4 linked regions of the Homo sapiens genome follow. The protein of the gene in region 4 interacts with the protein of the main gene of each other region in a pairwise test. Each region holds a gene or a part of one and is shown on either strand. Other genes may lie near its edges.

Region 1 (5,313 bases), on a different chromosome or scaffold from region 4:
CCCTTACCTGGCTGGGGAGGTGTCTCCAGCAGAGCTCACTCCCGCCTACAGCCACTCACACCCCGGGGACAGGAAGCTGTAGAGTTGGCGGGCCAGGAGGGCAGTTGAGAGCTGGCCAGCGGAGGGTGCAGGGAAGCCCAGCTGTGCTCAACTCTCCTGCCTCCGCCTTCCACCCTGGGCCCAGGGACAGACAGACATTGCCCTCAGAAGGGCAGGGAGGAGGCTGTCCTGGAGAGGCCTGTAGGTCCATTCTTCACCCGTCCCTACCAGGCCAACTCGGCCTGCAGGAAGGGAGACCTGCAGGGCGCTACCCCTGCGCCCCCACACACAGTAGGGCCAGAACACCATCCCCTCCACCGGGGTGTGCCGAGGACAGTGGGGAGGAGAGGAGAGGGGCAGCTTCCTCCTGGCCCCAGGAAGGGCTGGCATCGGGTTCCTGGCACAGCCCCTCCTGTCCAGGACTTTATCATCGGCAGACCTCAGAAGACAACACACAAAGGTTTCTTTTGTCTTAGCTTCATTTCTCTTAAAAAACAAGGAACAAGAAAACATTGCACCAGCGTTCTAAGCCTCAAACAAAACACAAAACAAATCCCCCTGCGAAGCAACAATAAACTTTACATCTCTTTGGCAACAATAACTTAAAATCACCCAACTTCCATTCGCTCCAACCACAGCAGTTAGTTAGTTACAAAAATATTCCCTGTGCTGCCCTGCCCCCAGCTCCACCCCTTCCCCACCATCCCTCTCCCTGTAGGTAGGAGCCCCCCAACACTGACTGCGGGGCATGGCCCCCACTCTCCTTTGGCAGCTGGGGCACAGGACCAGATACTGCCCCACAGAGGGGAGCTGCCTGCACGGTCCTGCCAAGGGCACCTCTAGAACGGGGCCCACGGGGCAGGAGTACAGCCTGGAAGCCCCTCCACCCCTGATCTTTTGGGCTGCCCACCGTGGCCACAGCGGGACCCAGGTGGGAGCAGCCTGTTCCCTGTGGGAAGGGTGGGCTTACGGGTCTAGCTGAGTCAGTGAAGGGGAAACAGCCACGGACTTTGAGATAAGGGCAGCGGAAACAGGACCGACACGGGCGCCCAGGGCCACTCCTTGCCCTGAGCCACCAGGAACCAGGCAAGGGTGGGGGCACAGGGGGTGGGAAGAGGCTCACAAACCTGCCAGTGTCTCGGGGCCATGCCTCGTCCTGGTTTAAGTGTCCTGTGAGCACACCGGAGGAGCTGCCGGATGGGGCATGCGGGTCCTCCGAGGCCAGGCAGGCAGGGCAGAGGGTGGGGGCCGCCGTGCCCAGGGGCACTGGCCCCTTTTGAGTGTGTATGTGTGTACAGACACCCACTGTGGCTCCAGGCGCCCCCAGGGGCTAGCAGCAAGCCTAAAAGCCCAGACGAATTCTGCCTCTGGGGCGGAGCATGGCCGATCTACCATCCAGGGCCTCTCATCCCACGGGCTTCTCCAGGACACCGCGTGGGGCAGAGGCACCTGAATCTGCTGCCAACAGCCACCAGGACGTGGTCCCCACCTTCTCGGTCACCATCCTCGCTGCTGCCTGGCAGGGGCTCCGGTGACGCCAGCCTTGAGGGGCAGGAGCTGCCCAGGTCTCAAGCCTCTTTACTCTCACCCCCGGCACCAGCTTCAGGTCCTGGCAAGCAGGACAACAAAGTGAACACAGGGTTCTGAGACACCAGGGCTGCCTCCCCCGCAACTCCCACCTGGCCTCCATCCCTGGCCCACATACAGGCCGGGCCCCTTCCCTGCAGCAGATCTGGCTGTGTCTAGGTGAGAGATGGACCCATTTCCCCCACTCCTGTCACTGGACTCAGGCCAACAACTCTCAGCAAATGCCTCCGAGTCCTGTTTTACGCATAAGGAAACTGAGGCCTGAACAGGAAGGGGATGGCCAAGGTCATGCAGTGGCCTCCTGGTGACCTGCCTGCTTGTTCAGCCACACAGGGGGCACCCTGCACCAGGGGTGAGGCTGACAGGCCCTTCCCCCAGGGCTGCAGCCACAGGCCAGGACAGCTAGGGAAGAGGAAGCTGGCAGGGGGCCTTCTCCGAGGAGGTGGGCACTTGTCAGGCACGTGGGCAGAGGCTGTAGGGGTAGGGACACCTGGCAGAGATGAGCCCAGCCTGGGGTGGGGCGGATAGTGGAGGGCCATGGCCGGGAGCGGTGGCTCAGGCCCCCAGCAGGGCTCCACCTGGGCACCGTGGGGCCGGGGCACCGTGGGACCTGGGTCTGCAGGGACTTCTGGCTGGGAAGGTTCCGGTGAGAGGGCCTGCCGCAGGTCTGCGGGGTAGGGTCAGGCAGAGGAGAGCCGAGTGCAGGGGCCAGGTGAGGGCCAGGTGAGGGTCAGGTGAGGGTCAGGTGAGGGTCAGGTGAGGGTCAGGTGAGGGCCAGGCGAGGGCCAGGCGGGGTCCAGGCTAGGTCTGGGGCCGGGAAGGAGCGGGGCCGGGAAGGAGCGGAGCGGAGCGGAGCCGGGGCTGGCCCGGCCCAGGACCTAGACGGAGGGGCCCCACCCTCGGAGCTCCGTGCCCTGCCTCCCGCGTGCCCTTCTGCCACAGCCCCGCCCAGGCCTCACCTCTCTTGGACTCGGCGTCCGAGTCAGACACGTGCGTGATGGAGAAGCGGGACGTGGGCGCGGGCGACACCGTGAAGCGCGAGAAGGGAGCGGGCGTGGGCGTGGGCGCAGCCGGGGCGGGTGCGGCCGGGTCTAGGGCCATGGCGAAGGCTGCCTTGGCCGTCATCAGCGGGAAGTCGTCGTCCCACGCGAACCCACCACCTGCAGCCCAGGTCGCGGCGTCACTCGCGCTCACAGCCTGGGACCCCGGCCCGGCCCCGCTCCCACAGTCACGGGCCCAGGCCCCGCCTCCCATCATGTCACGGGCCCAGGCCCCGCCTCCCATGATGTCACGGGCCCAGGCCCCGCCTCCCATGCAGCACGGACAAGGCCCCGCCTTCCGTGACGTCACGTACCAGACCCGCCTCCCATGACGACACGGGCCAAAGCCCGCCTCCCACGCGTCAAGGACCAGGTGCTCCTCCCATGATGTCACACATTAGGCCCCGCCTCCCACACAGCACGGACCAGGCCCTGCCTCCCGTGACGTCACGGGCCCAGCCCCGCCCCTGCTCACCCTCTTCCGCTGTGGAGCCATTTGGGGAGCCATCAGCCTGCTGCGGCCGGTTGGGGGCGCTGGGAGAGCCGGGGCTCCCCCTAAGGAACGTAGGGGGCGATTCCTTGGCGCCCGGGAAGGGCTCCCCGAGCTCCCGGGTGGGGCTTTCCTGGAGGAATCAGAGAGCACCAGGTAGCTCGGCCGCCAGGAGCCGCGGCCGCTCCCACCCCTTCCTGCGGGAGCGCGACCCCCAGCCCCGGGCAGACCCCGGGTGGCGGCGGCCCACCTGGTCAAAGAGGTAGACGGTGACGTCGTCGAAGAAGGACACGGCCTTCTTCTTGCGTTCCAGGTCCTCGCAGAAGGTCTCGGACAGCAGGCTGGGCATCTTGAGCAGGCTGCGCAGGTTGCGCGCGCTCTGGCTCTCAGCCACCACCACGGGCACCGCCGGCGCCTCCTCTTCGCTGTCCTCGCTAGGCTCCTGGACGCTGTAGCAGCGGAGCTCCTCGTCAGACTCGTCGCTGTCCTCACTGTCCTCCTCCTCCTCCTCCGGCCGGCCCTCCAAGGCCGCAGGGAGGCCGGGCAGAGCCAGGCGGAGTGGGGCTCTGGGGGTGCCTGGGCCCCCCATCCGCTTTTGTGGGGCCGGCCCTGACAACAGTCCTGGGGGCCCCTGGAACTCAGAGCTGTTGCCTTCTGATCTCAGCGGAACCGGGGTCAGCAGGAAAAACTGGGAGCAGCTGGGGCTGGGCCCAGGCCGCACCTTGGCTGGGCCTTGGGGCTCCGGAGGCTCTGGGACCAGGCCCGAGGGGCAGGTGCTGGGCTCTGGGGAGGACCCTTCAAGCTGCAGCAGTGGGGGCAGCACCTCCCCGGGGCCAGAGCCTTGTGCCTCCCCGGAAACCCCAGGCCTGAGACAGACCTGCTCAGACGGCTGCCCAGTGCTCGGCAGGCCCAGCTCTGGCCCGGGGGCTCGGTCCCCGCCGCACTTCTTCTCTGGGCCTGAGGTGGCCTCGGCCTCAGCCTCGAGGTCTGAGAAGTAGGCAGAGTCTCGGTAGGGATTCTTCTCGTTGAGGCCACTGAGGGAGGTGGAGAGCCGTGTCTCGGGCCCGGGGCCCTCACCCTCTGAGGCCAGCTCCGCAAAGGCCTGGGGCTCACACCCTTCCTGCGCCTCCTTGAGCACAAACTCAGGGGACTCATAGTTCTCGGTGTCATAGCCACTGTCCAGCGCTCGCGGCTGCCCTCCAGAGGGGCCAGTGGCCGACGGGCTGAAGACCTCATAGCCACCATCACTGGCTGAGGACGGGATGTCCAGGGAGTCCAGGGAGTCGGGGGTCCCCACCTGCTTCTGCAGAGAGCGGAAGGCTGGCACCACATCCGGCCTCCTGGCCTGCAGGCCGTCGCTGGACGTGTCGGTGAAGATGCCTGAGGTGGCCTCGGCCGTGTCCTCATCCTCACTGCTGGGTGCCTCCACCTCGGGAGAGCTGCTGCTGCCATTCAGGGCAGAAGCCAGCTTGATGGCAGACACCTCGCCACCAGTAGCAGGCGTGGGAGAGTCAGGCAGGGCATCAGGGGCGTCGGGGGCACTGGCCTCCTCCGAGGGAAGTGGGGCTCCCTCCTGGGATGGGGAGGGGACGGAAGGAAGGGGCAGGCGGGGTCCGGTAGTGCCCTCAGCCTCCGTGGCAAGCTTGGGCTCTGCCTGCGGGTGGTCACCCCCACTACTGGCTGTCTCTGTCCAGGAGGGTGTAACCAGGCAGGGAGCAGGTGCCAGGCCCTGGGCAGAGCATAGATGAGGGAGGCCGGGGCAGCAGCCTGGCTCCTGGGCAGAGGCTGCCTGGAGCCCAAGCAGAGGCTCTCCAGGGTACCCCGGCTCGGGGGAGGCCCGTGGGGTCTGCTTTGGACTGGGGCAGCCCTCAGCGTGGCCGCCCGCAGAGACGGGGTCCCAGGACTCTGGACAGCGGCTGCCGCTGTTGTTGTTGGCTGACACGTTGGAGCGCCAGTGCCCGCGCTGGGCGGCCCTCCGCGCTCCCACCTCCTCTAGCTCATCCTCGCCAGTCAGCGGCAGCGGGGGCGCCCCTGAGCTCCCCAAAGGGGACGTGCCCAGTGGGTCCTCGAAGAAGGCAGGACAGAAGGCGGCCACGCCCCAGTCTGCATCCTCCGCTCCTCCCTCCGCCAGACTCAGGGGCCCCGCCGAGGGCGAGG
Region 2 (7,886 bases), on a different chromosome or scaffold from region 4:
AAGGCCCGCAGGTCCTCGTCCGAGTCGTCGCTGTTTTCGTCCTCCTCGTCTGCATCCATCCCGTCCTCTGAGAGGTCGAGCATCCCTGACACCCCGAGTTTCCCCAGGTACTTCCCTTCGATGTCCGGCTCCTTCAACTTCGGGCCCTCGGAGTGGCTGGACAGGGACTTGTCCAGCGCAGAATTGGTGTAGGCAAGGAGTTCGTTCGTGTTGGTCCCCGTGGAAGCGAGGGTGCAGGGGCGATCGTCCTGTGTCTCGAAGTCATCGCCGCTGCTAAGTTCTGCATTCAGCACACTCCAGGGACTGCTGGCCTCGTCTTCCGTGGGATGCACCTGCTGGGGAACACCAGTCTGTGCTGGCTCCGGCGTGGCTCTTAATTCCAGGTCACTGGAGTTGTGCAAAGCAGACAGACAACTTTCATCTGGCTGGCTCTTTCTGGCTTCCAGGCAGCTATCCTGGGCAGCAGGACTTTGCTCGGGGAGGACTGGCTCGGGTAGGGGCTGCTCCTGTACCAACACCAAGGCGGATGGGGAGGTTCCCGGGACCTCCTCAGACCTTTTCTCGGGCTCAGAGTCATTGTCTGAGAAGTACGCAGAGTCTCGGTATGAACCCTGGGAGCCAGCTGTGAACGTCTCAGGGGTCACTTCTGTGCCTCTGTGACCATCGCCGGCATCTGAGATGACAATGACCGGGTTGGGAGGCAGACCGCTGTGGCCGCCATCGCCCGTGGTGGCTGGTTCTGAGTCTGCGGTGCCCTCGGGAGCGGGATGCAAGGTCCACTCGGGAGACTCCAAGTTCTCTGTTTCGTAGCCACTGTCTGCCGGCTTATCGGGGGGCACTAGTTTCTGGGGAGTGTGAGATCCTAAAGAGTCCAGTAGCGCTTCGTGGACATCCACTGACTCCAGAGAGTCCGGGGTTTCCAGGGACGGCTCAGAGGCTGGGAAGGGTGCTGACAAGCTGTCCTCCAGGAGGCTGTCCTGACTGGTTGAGTCCGAGGAGAGGGCAGACACCAAGCCTGCTTCTTTTGCTGCGTCTTTAGAATTGAGCTGATTTAAAGTCTCCACAGCCTCTAAGTTTTTCTCTAGCCGGCGATGACTGTGATGGTCTTCCGAAAATGGTTTATTGTGCAATTCCTGTCCCAGTTCCGGGAGACTACTCCCTACACTCACCCTGCTGGCAAGGATGTCATCAGCAAGAACAGAGTCACTTTCGGTGAGTCGCAGGGTCTCCTCACTCTCGCCAGGAGAGTCCTGGGACCTGTTATCCAGGCTGTGGGTTCTGGCATCAGTTGAGAGAATTTCAACCGGGACAGTCACAGCGTCTGGACTGATGTCCTGGTGGAGACAGTCCTCCGGGACAATAACATCTAAACACGTGGGCTGGGTTTCTCCCTGTGTTGGGAGTGAGTCTGGGGGTACCCGACGGGGCGTTTCTTCTGTTTCGAAGGAGGTAGGAGGTACCTGCACTTCCGGGGAAGACTGCAATGAGGTGCTCAAAGTGTCACCTGTGAGCATGACATCTGTATCGTCACCCTTTGTGCTTACGTTTTCCTGCAACAAAGACAAGCCTGGCTTATTTTCAGCAAACTGAAGCTCAGTATCTAAAGAGTTTCTACATGACGTTTCTAACATAGCTTCAGTAAAACCAGCATTCTTAAGTTCTGTCTGAAGATCATTTATGTGTTCTTTGCTGGACAATGAGCCTTTTAGTAAGTTTTTCTCTTGAAGAAATAAAAAGTTTTCTGACAATTCTTGAACATTCAATGGATCAAAATTATCTTGGTGCATAAGATTATCTGATAGGCAGAGAGGCTCACTGTCAAAAATCTTACGGGGCTTTTCTTTCTCAAAGTGGCCTGTTATGACTGACTCTTTGGGGTTATCCAAACTGGAACTTAAAGTGGCAGGTTTAAAGTCGGCTTGAACTCCGTTTAATTCCATTAAGTCGAATATTTTTTGGTGACTGGGCAAATCTTCCGATTTGTCCACATCATTAAATATATTGTTGAAAGGGCTCTCGGGGCCACTGGTCACGTGTAAGTCCCCTGGTAAGCTAGAGTCTTTGGGGTCTGTACTGCTTTGGAAGAAGTCCTCATCTGTACTGGACTCCTCAAGTTCAACGCTCCTGAGCGCCGTGAGCTGGGACAGTTCAGGGCCAGTCCTTTCTGGATTATCCATGTCGGTTGTGAGCAGCGCTGGTGGGTAATCAAGCTCCAAGTTACTACCACTTTTTTCTTCTAACTGGATATAATAGTCGCTTCCAACAGAAAGGTTGTGGGCATCAAAAACAGGAACCACTCCAGGGACCCTCAGGGGGACATCCTGGCCGCTGTCATCTTGCTTTCCGGGCCCAGGATCTGAAAGCGAACTCTCAAAAACTTCAACCGGATAGAAGATGCTCGTGTAGGACAAGCCTTCGTCCAGGTGGCCCCGGCTGCGCTCGTCAAAGTGGTCGTGCTTAGCGGCCTCCCAGACATACTCGAAGCTCAGGCCCTGGCTGGTTTCGGTCACGGTGAGGACTTCCTCCATTTCACGACCCAGCCGGTCCCTGGCAAAGTGGTCGAGAATTGGGAATGCAGCATTGTTGGAGGAGTCTCTGCTGTTTGTGTTCGGCTTCAGAGCGTTCCACTGCTGTTCAAAGTCGACCTCTGAGTCCCGCTGGCTCTGCAGCCGCAGGTAAGTCAGCAGCCTGTGCACATCTTCAGCCGCGGGTCTCTTTTCTGGTGACAGCCAACAGAACTGTAAGACTTCATACCTGAGCAGCACACGACAAGCAATCAGTGGAACCATCACGAATTTTTTTTTTTTTTTTGGTTCGAGACGGAGTCTTGCTCTGTCACCCAGTCTGGAGTGCAGTGGCATGATCCCGGCTCACTGCAACCTCTGCCTCCTGGGTTCAAGCAATTCTCTTGCCTCAGCCTCCCGAGCAGCTGGGATTACAGGCGCCCGCTGCCGCGCCCAGCTAATTTTTGTATTTTTAGTACAGACGGGGTTTCACCATGTTGGCCAGGCTGGTCTTGAACTCCTCACCTCGTGATCTGCCCACCTCAGCCTCCCAAAGTGCTGGGATTACAGGGATGAGCCATTGTGCCTGGCCGAATCAGTTAAAAATATCAAAAGAGGCCAGGCACCCTGGCTCACACTTGTAATCCTGGGGCAATGGGAGGCTGAAGTGGGAGGATCACTTGAGCCAGGAGTTCAAGAACAGCCTGGGCAACATACTGAGACCCTGTCTCTACATTTTTTTTTAAATAAAAATAAATAAATAAACAATATGAAAAGAATTTACAAGGACCCTAAAGCCAACTCAACACCCGAAACATTTCTACACCTTCATCACTGCCAACCACATTAAGTAGTTCAGCTCATGGTGACATCATGGTGAAAGAGGAAATGAAGAAACATAATATTTGGCCCACGAATTTTTTTGTGTTTTGGGGACACCTCACAGTGAAGACGAAACAGAACAGGCGGAATGTGAGGCTACCAACCATCTATCAGAGTAGGGCTGCTCCAGCTGGGGCTTCGGGAGTTTTGTGTCTCTCTCTCTAATGACTTGGTTGAGGACATCTAAGTTGGAAAGGTTTGAATACGGCTGTGCGGCATTGTCAAAAAGCTCCCAAAGTGTCACACCCAGAGACCTGTTGGAAAAAGAAAATGGCTGTTTCTCTCTCCCTTTAGATGTCAAATTTTTAACACTCATACTTGTTACATAGCCAGTAATTTTAAGGACAAGGTGTGTATTGAAAAGATTATTAATAGGATCTTTGTTGTTGTTGTTGTTGTTTTAAGACAGAGTCTCACTGTCGCCCAGGCTGGAGTGCAATGGTGTGATCTCCACTCACTGCAACCTCTGCCTCCCGGGTTCAAGTGATTCTCCTGCCTCAGCCTCCCAAGTAACTGGGATTACAGGCACAAGCCATCATGCCCTGCCAATTTTTATAATTTTAGTAGAGATAGGGTTTCACCACGTTGGCCAGGCTGCTCTCAAAGTCCTGACCTCAGGTGATCCACCTGCCTTGGCCTTCCAAAGTGCTGAGATTACAGGCGTGAGCCACCACAACCAGCCAAGATTGTTCTTTAATCTGAAACCAATAATCAACAGCACAATAGCAAAAAAAGAGGCATTTCTGTTAAAATGAGGAAGACCATGCCTCCTATTTGCTACTGAATACCACCCTAGAAGTTTTGGCCAATGAAAAAAGTACAAAACAGAGATAATAGGTGTAATTATGTGGATGAGATGACTATCAACTTTTAAGTACTCAATAAATTATTGGAAAGACCATCAGAATGTTCTAAAAATTTGGCAGAATTGCTGGAAACAAGATAAATACCCTGAATTCTGATTTTTTTTTTTTGGTAGAAAAATACACCTATTAACAACATTAGTAAACACCAGAAACCATCTAAAAGGAATCTTTACATGGGCAAGACGATATCCTCTCTGTGAGACCCACAAGTTTGGTTTGAGTTACTCCTCAGTATCGTGGGTTTTGCTGCTATTCTGAAGGGATCCCCCATCACGCTGGCAGCTGTGTGCCAGGAGAGACCCTGAGGGCTGCCTCACCACAGCAGGAACGCCCTTCTCAGTCCCAGCCCAATCCTCTCTCACACTGCGGTGCTCTGTCCCCATGGAAACAGCCTCTGCTGGCTTCCTGGGTCAGAGGAGCTGCCTCTCATTTCCTCCACGAGGTCTCTGCATTTCCTCCCCACCACGCACTGCCTCCATCCCGCATTTGTGTCTATTTACTGCAATGTTCCCGAACGTGACTCTCATCTGTGTCCTCTGGGAAGCCGTGAACACACACACTGCTAGGTCAGATCCACCCCTAAAGGATGCTTAGTTGGTAGATCCAGGTGTGGCCTAGAAAACTCACGTTTTAAAAAGTTCCCCAGTGATTCTGATGTCCAGCTAACCCTCCACGACACGCCCCAAACAACAAAGAAGCAACTACATTTTGACAAAAATCACTAAAGGAGAGCACCAGAGCCCATCAAAGGAGTAACAGGTACTCAGGAGATTCAGGACAGCCACAGCGAGAGCGGAAGGAAACGCCTGGCCTCCACCACCCCATCCCTGGCAGGCGCAGCCAGGAACCAGGAGCAACTTTCTCTTCCAGGTAAGGGCAAGTAAGAGGATCTCACTGTGGACCCCTACATCCTCACACTGCTCACCGTGGACACTACAGTCCTCACACTGGGGTCGCCTGGGGTCCTCACAGGCAGTAAGCCCAGCTGAAGAATTCAATAAATGAAATAAAAAGAAATACAGAACTTCAACAACAGACTCAAGCAGAAGAACCTCTCAACTTGAAGAAAGGTTGTTTGAAATCACCCAGTCAGAGGGAAAAAGACAGAAGAATGAAAAGGAGTGAAGGGAGGCTTCAGGGCTTATGGGAGACTACAGTGCAAACAAATACACACATTATGGGAGTTACAGAAATAAAAGAGCTAGGAGAAGGCAGAGAAAGGCTATTTAAGGAAAGAACAGCTTAAAAACTTCCCAAGTCTTGGGAGAGATACAGACATCCAGATCCAGGAAGCTCAAAGGTCCTTAAAATACAATCAACCCCAAAAGGTCATTTCAGAGGCACATTATAGTCAAATTGTCAAAAGCCAAAGACAAAGATAAAAATTCTAAAAACAGCCAGAGAAAAGCATTAAGTCACATAGGAGGGAAGCAGAGAATAGGATGGTATACTCAAAGTACTGAAATTGGCAGCCAAGAACACTATGCCCTGCAAAGATATCCTTCGGAAATGAAGGAGGGTTGGGCGCGATGGCTCATGACTATAATCCCAGCACTCTAGGAGACTAAGGCATGAGGATTGCTTGGGGCCAGGAGTTCAAGACCAGCCTGGGCAACACAGCATGACCTCGTCTCTACTAAAAAAATATATATAATAATAACTTTTTTTAAAAAATGGAGAAATAAAGTCTTTCCCAGATAAGCAAAAACTGAAGGAATTCATCATTATGAGACATGCCTTAAGAGAAATGGTCCAGGAGTCCTGTATCTGGAAGCTAAAGGAGGATAACCATCAACATGAAAAAACACAGAAGTATCAGACTCACGATACACTAGGTAGAGCAGATACACAAGGGGGAAAGAAAAAGGAAGAAAACCTCATCACTCGTGGAAGATAAAAAGGTTGATCTCATAGAAGTAGAGAGTAGAAGAGTGATTACTTGAGGCAGGGAAGGGGAGGGAGAGGAGGAATAGTGAGAAGCTGACTAACGAATACAAAATTTCGGCTGGGAAGGAGGAATAAGATCTAGTGTTCTAAAGCACTGAAGGGTGACTATAATTAACAACAAATTTTTGTATATTTTCAAACAGCTCTAAGAGCGGCTTTTGAATGTTCCCAAAAACAAAAAGAAAAAATGATACATGTCTGGAGTGAAGGGGATACTAGTTACCCTGATTTGATCATCACACACTGTATATAGGTATCAAAATATTACACTGGGCCAGGTGCGGTGGCTCACGCCTGTAATCCCAGTACTTTGGGAGGACGAGGCAGGCGGATCACTTGAGTTCAGGAGTTCGAGACCAGCCATGGCAAAACTCCATCTCTACTAAAAGTACAAAAATGGTGTGGTAGTACATATTGGTAATCCCAATTACTCGGGAGGCTGAGGCACAAGAATTACTTGAACCAGGGAGGTGGACACTGCAGTGAGCCGTGAGCCGAGACTACACCACTGTACTCCAGCCTGGGCGACAGTGAGACTCTATCTCAAAACAACAACAACAACAACAACAACAAAAACATATATATATATCACTGTACCCCATAAATATGTCCAATTATATGCATCAATGAAAAAAATAATAAAAGCAAAAAAATTGTTTTAAAGAAATCAATCCAAAAGAAAGCAAGGAGAGAAAAAAAAAAGCAGGACAACAGCACATAAAACATAGCTATAAATTAAGAAGGCTGTGACAGAAATTGTTAGTCAAAGTTTTAGGTGCATCTTTTTAGCTCCCATTAAACTGACTCCTATAAATCATAGTATAAACATGATAGTCCACACCCCTTTCAGTTTCTTCTTTCACTTCAATAAATACATATTAAATATCTATTACATGTCAGGCCCTGTGGGAGGCACAGAATATGAAACAGACTTGGTTCCTGCTTTTCTAAAGGAAAATGGGTAGCAGGGGCAGTATTCAAAACGTTAACTCCATCACCACAATTGTGATAATTACTATTTGTGTCTTTTAAACTGTCTTTTTCACACCATCAGATACTCTTTTGTTCCTACATCTTATACAACTACTTTCCTTTAAGGAAGTACTCAAAGAGGAAGAAGTTAGGACTTTGCCAAAGAAATGACTAATAAAACGGTAAGCCAATACGTACCAGATATTACTATACTTAGTCTGATCTGCAGTTAGCAGTCTGTCTTGAAAGCTGGTTACTAATTCTGGAGCAGTCCATCGCAGAGGGAAAACTTTTTTATCATCTGTTTCAATATAATCCTCCTGTTTTGTTAGAAAGCACACAGAATTTTGAATAGAATTATACTTTTGGTGAGTTCAAGAATTTAAATCCATGGTATTCTCAGAAAACATATACCCAATCCAAAAACCAGGTCAGAAAAAAAAGCAGGCATGAAGAGTGACTTTCTGGGCAGAAAGTGGGTAAGGAGTTTTGCTGAAGCCTCCTGGGCTTCATGACCTCATCTGCGAGCCATGAACGCTTGCTAAGTCATCCTTCTTGGATAAGAAAGTACGCTGTGTCTGATGCATATAACATAGACTCTGAGCAAAACACTAAAACAATATATACTGGGACTTATGCGCTGAACAGTGAAGCCAGTTAGGGAGCAAGACTGTAGGCTTTAGACTCTGACAGACCGGGGTTTGAAGTCCTCATT
Region 3 (7,886 bases), on a different chromosome or scaffold from region 4:
AGCATGGACAGCAGAGTGAGACCCTGTCTCAAAAATAAATAAATAAATAACGCAAGTTATTGGTTGTTATGAAAGTAACATCTGACCATTACAAGACATTTTAAAATATAGAAAAGTCTGAAGAGTAATGTCAGATCACCCCTAATGTTACCACCCAGTAGTGACTTGTTTGCGTTTTGGCCCACCCCCTTCCATCAGCCCTTTTCCCATGTATGGATGGTCCTGGGATATTCACTTTGACATTTTGTTTCTCCATTAACATTATCTCCCAGTGCGGTGGCTCACAACCTGTAATCCCAGTACTTTGGGAGGCCAAGACGGGTGGATCTCTTGAACCCAGGAGCTTGAAACCAGTCTGAGCAACATGGCAAAAACCCGTCTCTACAAAAAATACAAAAATTGTCCAGGCGTGGTGGCACACCTACTTGGGTGGTGGAGGTGGGAGGATTGCTTGAGCCCAGTAGTTCAAGGCTGCAGTGAGCCATCATGGTGCCACTACGCTCCAGTCTAGGCAACAAAACAAGACCTTTTCTCAAAAACAAAAAACAAAAAACACCATTATTGCTCAGTAGTTCCTAATATTCGTAAAAATATTTCCCTTCCACCCACCAGCTTTTGAGCTTTTCACTGCTTCTCAGATTTTACACTTAGGTTTGGTGGAGTGAGGCGAAAATAGAATTCATTGCTTGTCCTCATTCCTTGCAAGTGTGTCTGTAATGTCATGAATATGGAAGCTCACGTGGCTGATGGTTGACAGCTTCGACAGTTCTCACCTCTGTCTTAGTCATGCCCGGTTCACCAGTCCAGGCAGCAGGGTAACCAAGGCTGGGCTGGGAGCTGGAAGCAGCAATTGGTGAATGAGTGGGCACCCGCGGATAAAGAGAGAGCAGCCGGTGAAGCGAGGCTGGGCTCACCATGCACCTGGAGATCTCCTCCTGGGGTGCAGGCCCGCGTGTCTCTACTCCGAAGTGCAGGAAATAAACACTGGCACTAATGACCTTCCTGATGTGTGATTCAGCAGCTCCAGATTTGGCATTGCCTCTGGCTCAGCAGATCAGACACAAATCTTCAAGAATGTGTTCATTATGGGAGAACAAATTTTAAGAATGAAATTATCAGTCATTCAAATTGCGGTCTAGGCACTCTGGAGCACTCCAGACCTTAAAGCTGTCCTGCAATGAAGGATGGCCCTGTGCCCTGTAAGGAACAAAAGCAGGTTGTAGGACAGAACTGTGTTAGAGGTGCTTTTTTGCTTATTGTTTTGTTTCTGGCAAAAGGAAAATGAGTGGGAGTTTGTGTGTGAGCACACACAGGCTCCTGACTTTTACGAGGTTTTGGAAAGATGGATATCAAACTTTTAGCAGTGATTTCCCCAGACCTACAAAAGTGTTCAAATACAAGACTTTTTTTTTTTTTTTTACAGTGAGTAGGAATTACTTTTGTAATTAAAAATAAATCAAAGCATGAAAAAAATGTATGATTTTGGACCAGTCAATTCTTAGAATCTTGTATCGCAGGTTTGTACTTACAGGGCATAAATGGAAGGATATTTATTGCAGAATCACTTGTGAGAGCTAAACATAAAACAGACTGTTTATCAGTAGGGCTGGATGGGGCAGTTGGAGACGCCTGTGCTGTGGAGTGGCATGCAGCTGTGGGAGAACACACATATCTATCTGCTCCAACATGAGCTGCTGTCCAAGAGATTTTATTCTGCCAAAAAAACAGGAGCAGGAAAATATGGATGACACGATTCTATTTAAAATCAAGTTCATTTAGGCCGGGTGTGGTGGCTCACGCCTGTAATCCCAGCACTTTGGGAGGCCAAGGCAGGCGGATCACCTGAGGTCAGGAGTTCAAGACCAGGCTGGCCAACAGTGCAAAACCCTGTCTCTACTAAACATATAAAAATTAGCCAGGCATGGTGGCGGGCGCCTGTAATCCCAGCTAGTCGGGAGGCTAAGGCAGGAGAATCACTTGAACCCAGGGGGCAGAGGTTGCAGTGAACTGAGATCCCACCACTGCCCTCCAGCCTAGGAGATAGAGCGAGACTCCATCTCAAAAATAAATAAATAAACAAACACTCTGTCTCAAAAATAAATAAAATAAAGTTCATTCAACATTCGAATTAAGAAAACCATATAAAACTACTGTGTCTATATGTCAGAATAGTTGAATATCGGTTGTTCCATGTGGTTCAACCTAAAATATACATAAAGTTAGGAGAACACGAAACTTAACCATTTATAGCCTTTGGGAAAGAGGACTGTTAGAAATACTATCTTTTGAAAGGCCACATTTCTGTAATACTACAGTTTTTCCCAGTAAGCATGAGTCATGTTGGTAATGTTAAGTAGATAATAAAAGCAGGTGATGGTGTCAGTGTGAGCTCACACCTCTGGTCTTGGCGTGAGAGTGGCCTGGACTCTCCTGCTAACCTTAATAATGAAAAATGAACCAAACCCTAGTAAAAAAGAATGAATCGGCATCCCCAGTGCCCCGAAGATTTCTGGAACACCTGCCTCAGAACCCTTTCAGAGGGGAAGCTGCTAGGTGGGGCCAGAAGAAAGTTTTGTTTGTGGTTTTACTTGATTTCTTCTTATTTGGGGGAGCAGGGGTGGGGCAAGGCTGGGTTTTGGGACAAGGTGCTTTTTTCCTAAGGTGGCAGTAGCATGTTCACTTTTAGAACCGAGTTAGCTCTTTTAGGCCTCACACTGACCAGAAATCACTTGTTTGCTTCCAGATGAGAAGCGCTTTGCCCCCTGGCCATGGGGCCCTCTAAGTCTGATATAGTTATTTGCAAGGTTAAGGAGAAAACAGAACACCGTGGTTTTCTGGGGATGTGGGAAAGTGGCTCTCTAGAGAACTCACCTTCCACCAGGCTTAGGGTCAGCGTCCTGAAACGGCACCACTTTGTCTTACATTCAATTGCTTTGACGTGTGGGGTGCTTGGGGCCACGCAGCCTGGGAGGAGCCAGCCCTGCCTGGAGTCCTGCTCAGAATCTGAGGTCACCTCAGCCTGCCTGGTGTGCCCCCTGTACCTTTCTGTAAATCCTGTAGAGGGAGACAAAGAGTTACTTTTCCCTGTGATTTAAAAAAAAAAAAAATGCAGGGAAGGTAGCTGGTGGCCTTGAATCTTGGTACCCAGTGCTTTCCAAGAATTCTTGTGCCCCTGTTGCATATTGTATTGGGTCAAGAGCATGGACTACTGGTGCTCTTTTAAATCTAGTGCATGTTTAATTATTACCCTAAAAGAATCTGTCATCATTAGATAAAAATGTGAAGAAAACATTAAAATGTTGAATGAGGAAAAGGATCGTGTCTAATCCCAGTACCAAGTTTCACTCACCTTGGACAAGGGTCTCCAGTGAATTTCATGAACTTGTCAGTAGCTGGGGAGACCTTGATAAAAGTGAAATTGGGCAGAGCACCTATCTCCGATGGTATTCAAACATCAGGAACAGAAAGCGGATGTGGTCGTTATTAAGATCATTAGAATTCATTTACTTTTTATACTGCATATTCCCGCTTGTTTCCAGGTTGGGCAGTTTTGGGTTTTGTTTCCCCAGGATGCAGCCGGGTGTGCATTTTTTGGTGCATCATGTTTTTTAAGGTGTGGTGTGCCCTTTTACCCCATTGTGTAACTTAGGTGATGACACACGTGCACGTGAAGATTTTGGCTGGAGGTGGAGAGTGGGTTGGTAGAGAACTTAGAGTAGAAAAGGGATGTTTTCTGAAAAATCACGAAAGCCTTATTGTTCACAGGTCCCCGAGACAGCAGCAAGATGGGGATTCTGTACATCTTGGTCCCCAGCATCGCAATTCCACTGGTCATCGCTTGCCTTTTCTTCTTGGTTTGCATGTGCCGGAATAAGCAGAAGGCATCTGCGTCCACACCGCAGCGGCGACAGCTGATGGCCTCGCCCAGCCAAGACATGGAAATGCCCCTCATTAACCAGCACAAACAGGTCTCCATGCCTTACATTTTCTACCCGGGTGGCTCTTCCAGGTTTAATCCTCAGGGGTTGTTTCCCCCAACATTAAATGTCTTAATTTACTTGATACATAGCACATAATTATTTTAAACTCCGCTTCATTTTGCCATTTTTTTTTTCTGTAAACTAGATCAGGACATGTGTGCTTTAGAAAATAAATGGCAGGCGTGTTGGGAATTCACTGCCCCAGAGTCCATGGGCCTCCTTCTGCCTGGACCATGCTGCCCCTGTGGGCCCCAGCGAGTGTCCTCACTGTCCAGGTGCCTCAGCTCTGCCCAGAAGACACACAAGAACAACAGGGCTCCAATGCTCCCCATAATTTTTCTTGACACTTTTGGGTTGGGTTGGTTTTGCTTTGTTTTGTTTACAGGGAAGGATAGGAGAATAGCTCTTAAATGGGAGTAGGTGGACAGGCTACCACTAAAAGGCCACCCCTCATCCCAGAGCAGCCTTAGATGGGGGTGGGGCACTGAAATACAACAGATGAGAACATGTGCTGCAGCCTCTCCAGGTTGTGTTGTAAAAGGGCATTTACACTCATTGCAAGCCGTAGGTAACATCATTCTCAGCCAGCTTTGCAGGGGCTCTTCAAGGTGGCCAGGAGGGAGCTGATGCACTTGGCTCTTCAGTCCCAGAGTCGGTGAGAGTTTGCTATGGGCAGGGGCTGGCCAGCGAGGAGGGCACAGAGCCCCGGGGCTTGCACGGAGGCCCAGGAACCTCTGGGGAGGATGAGGGCTGGCCACACGGGAGGAGCTGGTGTCATAGAGGCCGAGAGAGATGCAGGGTTCTCAGGGCTCCTATCACCTGTGGGGTACTCTTTCCAGGAACATGTTTAACAGAGACCCTAGTCAAGAGGCCCATGGACAGGCCCATTGAGGGAACCTCTGTAGAACAACTGGCTTGGACTCTTATAAGTGACAAAATTGCCAAGACAAAAATGTCGTGGGAAAGCCTCTGTGGGGTCCATGAGAAAAAGACATCACATCTCACGTGATGTGTCGGCACACATGGGGGTTGGAGGGAACCTGGCAGGGTATGTCCGGGGCAGCCCCAGGGCAGCTGGTGCCTGGGCCTGGCTGTAGGGTGTGTGTGTGTGTCCACACATGCACAAGTGGGAAGGAAGTCAGTGTGTCCCAGCTGGATTTTGGAGGGACCTTATTTGTAGCCTGGTTGGGATCTGTGGAAGATTGCAGATGGGAAGCAACCTTGGCATCAGAGCCGTATTTAAGGTTAACTAGAGAGCTGTGGGTGGGCAGGCCAAGGCTGGGTGGGCAAAACCAGCGGGTCTTCTGCAAGGCCCCCCTAGTCGTGGCCGCACAGGGACTCCACTCCTCCCGGCTGCTCTGCAGCTTCCTCCAGGGCTGCGGTGACAGTGATGTTTCACGTGGGGCTTTTCTTCTTGACAGGCCAAACTCAAAGAGATCAGCCTGTCTGCGGTGAGGTTCATGGAGGAGCTGGGAGAGGACCGGTTTGGGAAAGTCTACAAAGGTCACCTGTTCGGCCCTGCCCCGGGGGAGCAGACCCAGGCTGTGGCCATCAAAACGCTGAAGGACAAAGCGGAGGGGCCCCTGCGGGAGGAGTTCCGGCATGAGGCTATGCTGCGAGCACGGCTGCAACACCCCAACGTCGTCTGCCTGCTGGGCGTGGTGACCAAGGACCAGCCCCTGAGCATGATCTTCAGCTACTGTTCGCACGGCGACCTCCACGAATTCCTGGTCATGCGCTCGCCGCACTCGGACGTGGGCAGCACCGATGATGACCGCACGGTGAAGTCCGCCCTGGAGCCCCCCGACTTCGTGCACCTTGTGGCACAGATCGCGGCGGGGATGGAGTACCTATCCAGCCACCACGTGGTTCACAAGGACCTGGCCACCCGCAATGTGCTAGTGTACGACAAGCTGAACGTGAAGATCTCAGACTTGGGCCTCTTCCGAGAGGTGTATGCCGCCGATTACTACAAGCTGCTGGGGAACTCGCTGCTGCCTATCCGCTGGATGGCCCCAGAGGCCATCATGTACGGCAAGTTCTCCATCGACTCAGACATCTGGTCCTACGGTGTGGTCCTGTGGGAGGTCTTCAGCTACGGCCTGCAGCCCTACTGCGGGTACTCCAACCAGGATGTGGTGGAGATGATCCGGAACCGGCAGGTGCTGCCTTGCCCCGATGACTGTCCCGCCTGGGTGTATGCCCTCATGATCGAGTGCTGGAACGAGTTCCCCAGCCGGCGGCCCCGCTTCAAGGACATCCACAGCCGGCTCCGAGCCTGGGGCAACCTTTCCAACTACAACAGCTCGGCGCAGACCTCGGGGGCCAGCAACACCACGCAGACCAGCTCCCTGAGCACCAGCCCAGTGAGCAATGTGAGCAACGCCCGCTACGTGGGGCCCAAGCAGAAGGCCCCGCCCTTCCCACAGCCCCAGTTCATCCCCATGAAGGGCCAGATCAGACCCATGGTGCCCCCGCCGCAGCTCTACGTCCCCGTCAACGGCTACCAGCCGGTGCCGGCCTATGGGGCCTACCTGCCCAACTTCTACCCGGTGCAGATCCCAATGCAGATGGCCCCGCAGCAGGTGCCTCCTCAGATGGTCCCCAAGCCCAGCTCACACCACAGTGGCAGTGGCTCCACCAGCACAGGCTACGTCACCACGGCCCCCTCCAACACATCCATGGCAGACAGGGCAGCCCTGCTCTCAGAGGGCGCTGATGACACACAGAACGCCCCAGAAGATGGGGCCCAGAGCACCGTGCAGGAAGCAGAGGAGGAGGAGGAAGGCTCTGTCCCAGAGACTGAGCTGCTGGGGGACTGTGACACTCTGCAGGTGGACGAGGCCCAAGTCCAGCTGGAAGCTTGAGTGGCACCAGGGCCCGGGGTTCGGGGATAGAAGCCCCGCCGAGACCCCACAGGGACCTCAGTCACCTTTGAGAAGACACCATACTCAGCAATCACAAGAGCCCGCCGGCCAGTGGGCTTGTTTGCAGACTGGGTGAGGTGGAGCCCTGCTCCTCTCTGTCCTCTGACACAGAGAGCTGCCCTGCCTAGGAGCACCCAAGCCAGGCAGGGGGTCTGGCAGCACGGCGTCCTGGGGAGCAGGACACATGGTCATCCCCAGGGCTGTATACATTGATTCTGGTGGTAGACTGGTAGTGAGCAGCAAATGCCTTTCAAGAAAATAGGTGGCAGCTTCACTCCATGTCATATATGGAGTGAATATTTCAAAACGTTGGGAATAAGGGCCTGCAAAAGGCAGCGAGGAGGCACCTCGGGTCTTGAGGTTCCTGACAACCGATCTGGTCTGTTGGTTTGAGGATGAAGGGGCTCCATTTCTGCTGCCTCCCTGCTGAGAATATTCTCCCTTTAGCAGCCAAAGATTCGCTGGAACGGAGGCTGCCCTCTGCTGCCTGTTGGGGTCGGAAGACAAGGGGCTTCTGAAATGGGAGTTCCTGAGATACAACAAAATGTGTGCCTTCAAAGAAACTGACAGCTTTGTATTTGGTGAAATGGTTTTAATTATACTCCATGTGTATTTTGCCCACTTTTTTTGGGAATTCAAGGGAAAGTGTTTCTTGGGTTTGGAATGTTCAGAGGAAGCAGTATTGTACAGAACACGGTATTGTTATTTTTGTTAAGAATCATGTACAGAGCTTAAATGTAATTTATATGTTTTTAATATGCCATTTTCATTGAAGTATTTTGGTCTTAAGATGACTTTAGTAATTTAACTGTTTATGTTACCCACGTTGGGATCCAGTTGGTCTTGGTTTGCTTCTCTCTGTACCACGTGCACATGAGGTCCATTCATTTTACAGCCCCTGTTACACACAGACCCACAGGCAGCCGTCTGTGCCCCGCACACATTGTTGGTCCTATTTGTAAATCCCACACCCGGTGTA
Region 4 (7,886 bases):
AAAATGTTCCTTTTCATGTCCTAATTAAGTAGAAGGGAAGAATAGAGCAGATTCCTGTTGCCATTGCGGCAAAGGTATGATTCTGTCTCATGAGAACTTCTTAGGTAGAGCTCCTCTGGTTGGGGAAGGTGAGGGTTAGGAGAGGTTGGGAGATAGATGGTGTGGGGGCAGTGGGGAATGCAGGTAATCCCATTTCGTATGCAGGTATATTTTCTATATTTTAGGAAAAGTACTCCAGTCATCTTATATAAGAATTCTCAATCTTCAGGGCTGTAGACCCATACCAAAAAATTGCAGCATCCTCACACTCACAGTGTGGCCTGAAACCTTCCCAATAAAGATAGTACCCTTAGTTGTAATGAAAGTTAATATGTTCTGGCTGGGCGTGGTGGCTCACGCCTATAATCCCAGCACTTTGGGAAGCCAAGGCGGGTAGATCACTTGAGGTCAGGAGTTCAAGACCAGCCTGGCCAACATGGCGAAACCCTGTCTCTACTAAAAATACAAAAATTAGCCAGGCATGGTGGCATGTGCCTGTCGTCCCAGCTACTCAGGAGGCAGAGGCAGGAGAGTCGCTTGAACCCAGGAGGCAGAGGTTGCAGTGAGCTGAGATCACGCCATTGCACTCCAGCCTGGGTGACAGAGAAAGACTCTGTCTCCAAAAAAAAGGAAAGTTAATATGTTCAAAGAAGGCTGTTAAGGGATTTAATAGAAGAAATGAAGATACAGCATAGCTGTCTCTTATTTATCTACAGGACAAAAGGCAAAGTAGTAAAAAATTTAGAAGATTTACATAACACTATTAACAAGCTTAATTTTTTGGATATATAATCTTGGGTCTAGTGTTTTAGATTTCTAGAGAAGTTAACACATTTTTTTTTTCTTGAGACGGAGTCTCACACTCTCACCCAGGCTGGAGTGCAGTGGCACAATCTTGGCTCACTGCTACCTCCACCTCCCGGGTTTAAGCGATTCTCCTGCCTCAGCCTCCTGAGTAGTTGGGACTACAGGCGTGTGCCACCATGCCTGGCTAATTTTTGTATTTTTAGTAGAGACAGGGTTTTCCCATATTGGCCAGGCTGGTCTCGAACTCCTGACCTTGTGATCTGTCCGCCTCAGCCTCCCAAAGTGCTGAGATTACAGGCGTGAGCCACTGCACCCAGCCGATAACACATTCTTTTTTTTTTTTTCCTTTTTTGAGACTGTCTCTCTCTCTGTTGCCCAGGCTGGAGTGCAGTGGCGCGATCTCAGCTCAGTGCAAGCTCTGCCTCCCAGGTTCATGCCATTCTGCTGCCTCAGCCTCCCAAGTAGCTGGGACTACAGGCTCCCGCCACCACGCCCACCTAATTTTTTTGTATTTTTAGTAGAGATGGGGTTTCACCATGTTAGCCAGGATGGTTTCCATCTCCTGACTTCGTGATCCGCCTGCCTCGGCCTCCCAAAGTGCTGGGATGACAGGTGTGAGCGACCTTGCCCGGCCCGATAACACATTCTTAAGCGGGCAGGAACCATTTACAAAAGTTGATTATGTACTAAGCCATAAAATAAGCCTCAATGATCTGTTTCTTGTACAGACTACATTCTCAGACTACAGTGTAATTTGCTTAGAAGTCAATAACAAACCTGTAAGGTGTCTTTATTTTGAAATTTTATTATTTTTCTTTTTTTCTTTTTCTTTTTCTTTTTTTTTTTTTAAGACAGTCTCACTCTGTTGGCAGGCTGGAGTGCAGTGTTGCGATCTCAGCTCACTGCAACCTCTACTTCCCGGGTTCAAGTTCCTGTCTAAGCCTCCCGAGTAGCTGGGACTATAGGCACCTGCCACCACACCCAGCTAATTTTTTGTATTTTCAGTAGAGACGGGGTTTCACCATGTTGGCCAGGATGGTCTCAATCTCTTGACCTCATGATCCGCCTGCCTCTGCCTCCCAAAGTGCTGGGATTACAGGCATGAGCCGCTGCGCCTGGCCTTTTTCTTTTTCTTTTTTTTTTTTTTGAGATGGAGCCTTGCTCTGTTGCCTAGGCTGGAGCGCAGTGGCGAGATCTCAGCTCACTGCAGCCTCCGCCTCCTGGGTTCCAGTGAGTCTCGTGCCTCAGCCTCCCGAGTAGCTGGGATTACAGGCGCTACCATGCCCGGCTAATTTTTTGTATTTTAATTAGAGACCGGGTTTCGCCATGTTGGTCAGGCTTGTCTTGACCTTCTGACCTTAGATGATCTGCCCATCTCAGCCTCCCAAAGTGCTGGGATGACAGGTGTGAACCACCACACCTGGCCATCTGTTTTGGAATTTTAAAGGAAGAAAGTTTCACATCCATATGGGGAAAACTGGAACCCATACAGTAAGCCACAGGACACTAATGGGGACCTTTGGGAGAGATACTGTTGGAAACATCTGTGTTGCCTTATGCAGGGTGCATATGTGTATTATGTTATACTGTTGCAGAAATAGGGCCTTGTGCAACTAATTTACGCTTCTTGAGGGCAGGAACATTTTCATTACTTTTTCCTCAGCACTAAGAAATGTCTGACACAGGCGGTTCAAGACCAACCTACCCAACATGGTGAAACTCCGTCTCTACTAAAAATACAAAAATACAAAAATTAGCTGGGTGTGATGGTGCACTCCTGTAGGCTGAGACAGGAGAATTGCTTGAACCCTGGAGGTGGAGGTTGTAGTGAGCTGACGTTGCGTCACTGCACTCGAGCCTGGGCGACAGAGTAGACTCCGTCTCAAAAAAAAAAAAAAGACACCTTGTGTTTACCAAAAAAATTAAAAAATTAGCCGGGTGTAGTGGTTCCTGCTTTCAGTCCCAGCTGCTCAGGAGGCTGAGATGGAAGGATCACTTGAACACAGGAGTTGGAGGCTGCAGTAAACTGTGATCATGCCACTGCATTCTAGTCTGTGTGACAGAATGAGACCCTGTGTCAAAAACAAAAAGAAGAAGAAATGTCTGGCAAAGAGTAGGTTGAGTAAGTAAATAAGTACTTGCATCCTTTTTTTTTTTTTTTTTTTTTTTTTTTTAAAGAGAAACGTCTTACTACTTTGCCCAGGCAGGTCTCAAATGCCTGGGCTGAAGTGATCCTTCTGCCTCAGTCTCCAGAAGTAGCTGTGACTGCAGGCATGTGCCACTGCATCTGGCTGTTGCATACTTTTATACCTAAATGCAGAGAACATTTCAAGTCATTTATTAGGACAGCAGCTGCCCTTATTGGAGATTGATGTGTTAGGCACTGTGACAAATGCTCTTCCTACTTGTCCTGACCCATTTTCAAACATCCCTCTGAGATGACAGTATTCTTACCATGTTACGCACGGGTGAAGACAGCTGAGACTGAAAGATTAAGTTGCACACCTCTTTGAAACTTGACTTTTCTCATTTCAAACACATACACTGCAGATTCCCTTAGCTTTGAGTACAGATTCATCCTTTTGCTAGTGGGAACAGCTGTGGCAGCCTTATTTTGCCTTTGAAAGGATGTATTACAGTTCTTAAAGGCTGCCATTTACCTCATTTTGAGCCTTTTCGAGTACTTGTTACTTTTTGGAACGTGATTAGGATATGTTAGTTTGCTTACAGATTTTGTAAGTGTTTGTTTAACACTAAGAGCCTGTGGATATAAAAACATGTATATGCTACAGGCCAAAAAAAACCATGTATTTTTACCACTGGGAAAAGTCTTTTACAAACCCCTTCAGCAGGGTCAGTTTGACTCAGGGCCTGGATCTTAACTTTATGTTCTCTCACTGTGGGACCCCCCTCCCCCTCCCCGCCAACCATGAAGACACAACTCCTGGGTCTGCCTGTGTCTGCCAGTCCTTGCTTCAAATGACCTTGTCTTTGAGTGCTAGGATGAAGCCCAGTCTACTAGTGACTTTTTCCAACAGTCTACAGCTGTGTTTCTGTCTGGCTTTTACTTTATTTCCAGGTTCTCTTGCCACATCAATATCCCAGATGGTAAAGACTGAAGGGAAAGGAGCAAAGAGAAAAACCTCCGAGGAAGAGAAGAATGGCAGTGAAGAGCTTGTGGAAAAGAAAGTTTGTAAAGGTTTTCAGACAATTTGAAAACAAATGTATTAGACTTCATATTTTAAAACAACCCAGAGCAAAACCAGTTTCAGCTTTCTAATAATACTTTCTTTTTATGTCTGTATTTAAGAAATAAGTAGGGTTCCCTTTTTGCAAATGAATTTCCAAGTTTCTCTGTGCTTTCTCCTACTTTTCATGTACATCTATCTCTGATCCTACCTTTGATCAGATAGGAAACCTACATTTGTTCCTCAAGAGTTAAAAAATACAGGTGGTTTTTTTCTTAGCCTTCTGCAGTGAATGGTTAGTTTTTTGACCACCTAGTCTCTCTCTGACTTCCAATCTTTGTTTGCAGTTTGTCAATTAGTGCTTTGAATTACGTGATTTAGCTTAGTAGGCAGCTTCCCTAAGCCTGGAAAAAGCCGTTGAAATTTGTAGTCAGTTGTGTAACTTGTCAAAGTTAGTGAGGAAGAAAACGAAAAGTATTAACTAAAGAGAATACTTCAGTTGTGGTACTAAAGTATTCTTGAGCTGTGGGATTTTCTTTTTTTCTCTTTTTTTTGAGACAGAGTCTCGCTCTGTCGCCCAGGCTGGAGTGGCACCATCTCGGCTCACTGCAAGCTCCGCCTCCCGGGTTCATACCATTCTACCTCAGCCTCCCGAGTAGCTGGGACTACAGACGCCTGCCACCACGCCTGGCTAGTTTTTTGTATTTTTAGTAGAGACGGGGTTTCACCATGTTAGCCAGGATGCTCTCGATCTCCTGACTTTGTGATCTGCCCGCCTCGGCTTCCCAGAGTGCTGGGATTACAGGCGTGAGCAACCGTGCCTGGCCCGAGCTGTGGGATTTTCATTGACTGCATTGTCCTTTGTCACAGATTACCTCAGTGAAAGCTGTATGATGCAGGCAGAGGTATGTGAAAAAACCCACTTGTAGCTTTGCTGGGAAGATGTCATCTTCAACTTAGCTTGTCACTTCCCAGAAGACAGCTCTTCACAGTGTTCATTTTATTATTTGTCTGGCATTAGGTATCAGAAAATAAGCTTAAATGAGTCTAACCATTAAATGTAAATAGATCTCTGCCTGCATTGGAATCTTTTATCCTTTTCTTCCTCAGTTGAAGTAAAAGCAGCTGATCTTACTGTTTGTTCAAATTCTTCACCAGCCTTGAGCATGGAAATACATATTTTCAGGGCATCTTAAGGGCTTTTGAGATAAACTCTCCTGACTTGCATTTGTCCTTATTCAATTATCACAAGACTAATTTGCACATGATCCTTTTGCCTGATTTGAATCTCACTTCTCTGGGATGGCAGCACATCCCTTGCCCTGATGCTTTGACTTACACCCTAGACAGAGTTGTTTTGTGCTCACTGACTCCTCTTTTGTGTCCCTGTGCAACCTCTTAGAGCTCACCCTGTCCAACAGTGCTCCGATTTGAGTTATAGACTTGCAGCTGGGGGAGATGCCTTAAGGGGTATTGCTTATTTGTTTGCGCCATTAGGATATTGCTGAGTCAGACAGTCATAGTTCCCTCTCATTTGCTCTGGGACTAGGGTTTCCAGAGGGTTGGGCACAGTTTTGTATTGGCTCTTTTGTTCTCTTTTCCTTAGCCTCTTCGGTGATCTTTGGTCTGAAGGGCTATGTGGCTGAGCGGAAGGGTGAGAGGGAGGAGATGCAGGATGCCCACGTCATCCTGAACGACATCACCGAGGAGTGTAGGCCCCCATCGTCCCTCATGTGAGTCTCATGTGGTAGGAAGCCCGGCTGGCATTAACATCTCCTGGGTTCTGACTGGCATTTTGGACTGGCTAGTTTGTATTTACTAGAAAATCTAACACATCACTTGATTGTACATCAGTGATTCTCAGCTGGGGTTGATTTTGCTCCCCGCCCAGGGGACATTTGTCAGTGTTTGGGTACATTTTTGTCACAACTGCGGGAGGGAGTTGTTACTGGCATCTGGTGGGTAGAGACTAGGGATGCTGGTAAACATCTTAGAAGCACAGGGCAGCCCCACAACAAAGAATTGTTCAGCCTGGAATGTCAGTAGTGTCGCGGTTGAGCAGCCCTGCTGAGCGGGAGATGACGCTTCATAGCATGGCTCTGCAGCGTGTGTTACTCCTTACCAGCAACTGAGCGGCTTCTGGCAGAGAATATTTTTAATCCATGACCTAGAAGATAAGAGTTGGAAGCCACTAATTAAAGTATGAATGGTGATCAAGCAGAGCTAGTACAGATAATCAGGGCCCAGGAAGAACAAAAGTCAAAATGATGTCAAGGAAAAGACAGACAATGAAAAATTAGCTGCAACTATACAAACTAAAATGAAGCCTTCTGGATAAGCTCTTGGGCCTGGAAAAAAACCAGAAGGTAGGACATTAAGTTGGCTGTAAACATACATTATAGTACATATTACATAGGTTACATAATTCAGAATTACATAATAAATACATTACGTACCTTTACTGACACCAGTTGGTCATTAACATACAGTGTGCTGGAGCCGTTTGGGCTGATGGCGTTTGTCCAGTAGATGAGGTCTGCTCATGGAGATGAGGTGATGGCTGCTGCAGAGCAGCTGATCATATGTAGAGGGGACGAGATACACACCCATTGAGACAGGGTCTTGCTGTCTTGCTCAGGCTGGAGTACAGTGGCACAATCATAGTTCATTGCAGGCTTGACCTCCTAGGCTCAAGCAGTCCTCCCACCTCAGCGTCCTGAGTAGCTGGGACCATAGGCATGTGCCACCACAGCCGGCTAATTTTTTGAATTTTTTGTAGAGACAGTGTCTCCTTAAGTTGCTCAGGCTTGTCTCAGAGTCCTGGGCTCAAGCCATCTTCCCACCTTGGTCTCCCAAAGTGCCAGGATTACTCGCATGAGCCACCATACCCAGCCTGGGATTTGCATTAAAACCAGGAAAGGGACCTCTGGAGCCCAAGAAGGCAGATCCATTGAGTGTAAATTTAATTGGGAACACTACATCATGCCTTGCAAATAACAGGCAGTAAGAACAGCTCTGAGTTATAAACCAGATGAGGTTTTTTTTCTCATGGCTCAGGATGTCCTAAATTGAAAAGGAATTCCAAAAAACTTGAAAGAAAAGCAGCTCTCTAGAATAAATGTCATTTCTCGTGGGCATTTTTGTTTTTTTTTTTTCCTTGAAATAGTTTATTTGATGTCTTTTATTCCATATATGTGGGTTTTCTGGCAAAATTTGAAAGGGGAATGGGAATAAGAGTAGTAAGATAGGTTTTAAAAATGAGATATTTAAAATTTATTTGAGTAACAATTCTGTAATATCCTCCCTGCTCTTATGCAGTCATGTGCTGAATAACAACATCAAGTCAGTGATGGACTGCATATATGACGGTGCTCCCATAAGATTACAAATTTTGTAGAGATGGGGGTCTCGCTATGTTGCCCAGGCTGGTCTTGAACTCCTGGCCTCAAGTGATCCTCCTGCCTTGGCCACCTCCCGAAGTGTTGGGATTAACAGGCGTGAGCTGTCGTGTTCAGCCATAATACCATGTTTACTGTACCTTTTCTATGTTTAGGTATGTTTAAATACACAAATACTACCAGTGTGTTACAACTGCCTATGGTATTTAGTGCAGTAACATGCTGTGCAGTTTAGCCTAGGAGCAATAGGCTCTACCATGTATGTAGCTTAGGTGTGTAGTAAGCTGCGCCGTGTTAGTTTCTGTAAATATGTTCTATGATGTTCACACAACAAAGTCACCTAACAATGCATTTCTGTTAAGTGATGCATGACTGTATTTTTTACTGTTTTCGATAAATAACTTGATCTGTTTGTTAATGTTTAAAACCAAATCCGATTTAAATAGGAACGGAG

What was found.
Region 1: the proteins of ILKAP (region 4) and AATK interact in a two-hybrid assay, tested with the Homo sapiens proteins (one study listed by BioGRID and IntAct).
Region 2: the proteins of ILKAP (region 4) and LMTK2 interact in a two-hybrid assay, tested with the Homo sapiens proteins (one study listed by BioGRID and IntAct).
Region 3: the proteins of ILKAP (region 4) and ROR2 interact in a two-hybrid assay, tested with the Homo sapiens proteins (one study listed by BioGRID and IntAct).

What each region holds. Positions count from the first base shown.
Region 1 is NC_000017.11:81,116,795-81,122,107, forward strand, and holds the end of AATK (serine/threonine-protein kinase LMTK1), read right to left. Parts: coding exon 3,407-5,313; intron 3,290-3,406; coding exon 3,142-3,289; intron 2,787-3,141; coding exon 2,586-2,786; intron 1,649-2,585; coding exon 1,608-1,648; 3' UTR 501-1,607; downstream 1-500. UniProt on the Homo sapiens protein: May be involved in neuronal differentiation.
Region 2 is NC_000007.14:98,186,482-98,194,367, reverse strand, and holds part of LMTK2 (serine/threonine-protein kinase LMTK2 precursor), read right to left. Parts: intron 7,492-7,886; coding exon 7,370-7,491; intron 3,641-7,369; coding exon 3,491-3,640; intron 2,755-3,490; coding exon 1-2,754. UniProt on the Homo sapiens protein: Phosphorylates PPP1C, phosphorylase b and CFTR.
Region 3 is NC_000009.12:91,722,623-91,730,508, reverse strand, and holds part of ROR2 (tyrosine-protein kinase transmembrane receptor ROR2 isoform 1 precursor), read left to right. Parts: intron 1-3,765; coding exon 3,766-3,968; exon of another isoform or gene 3,969-4,062; intron 4,063-5,401; coding exon 5,402-6,847; 3' UTR 6,848-7,886. UniProt on the Homo sapiens protein: Tyrosine-protein kinase receptor which may be involved in the early formation of the chondrocytes. It seems to be required for cartilage and growth plate development. Phosphorylates YWHAB, leading to induction of osteogenesis and bone formation.
Region 4 is NC_000002.12:238,186,012-238,193,897, reverse strand, and holds part of ILKAP (integrin-linked kinase-associated serine/threonine phosphatase 2C), read left to right. Parts: intron 1-3,925; coding exon 3,926-4,045; intron 4,046-5,640; coding exon 5,641-5,767; intron 5,768-7,886. UniProt on the Homo sapiens protein: Protein phosphatase that may play a role in regulation of cell cycle progression via dephosphorylation of its substrates whose appropriate phosphorylation states might be crucial for cell proliferation.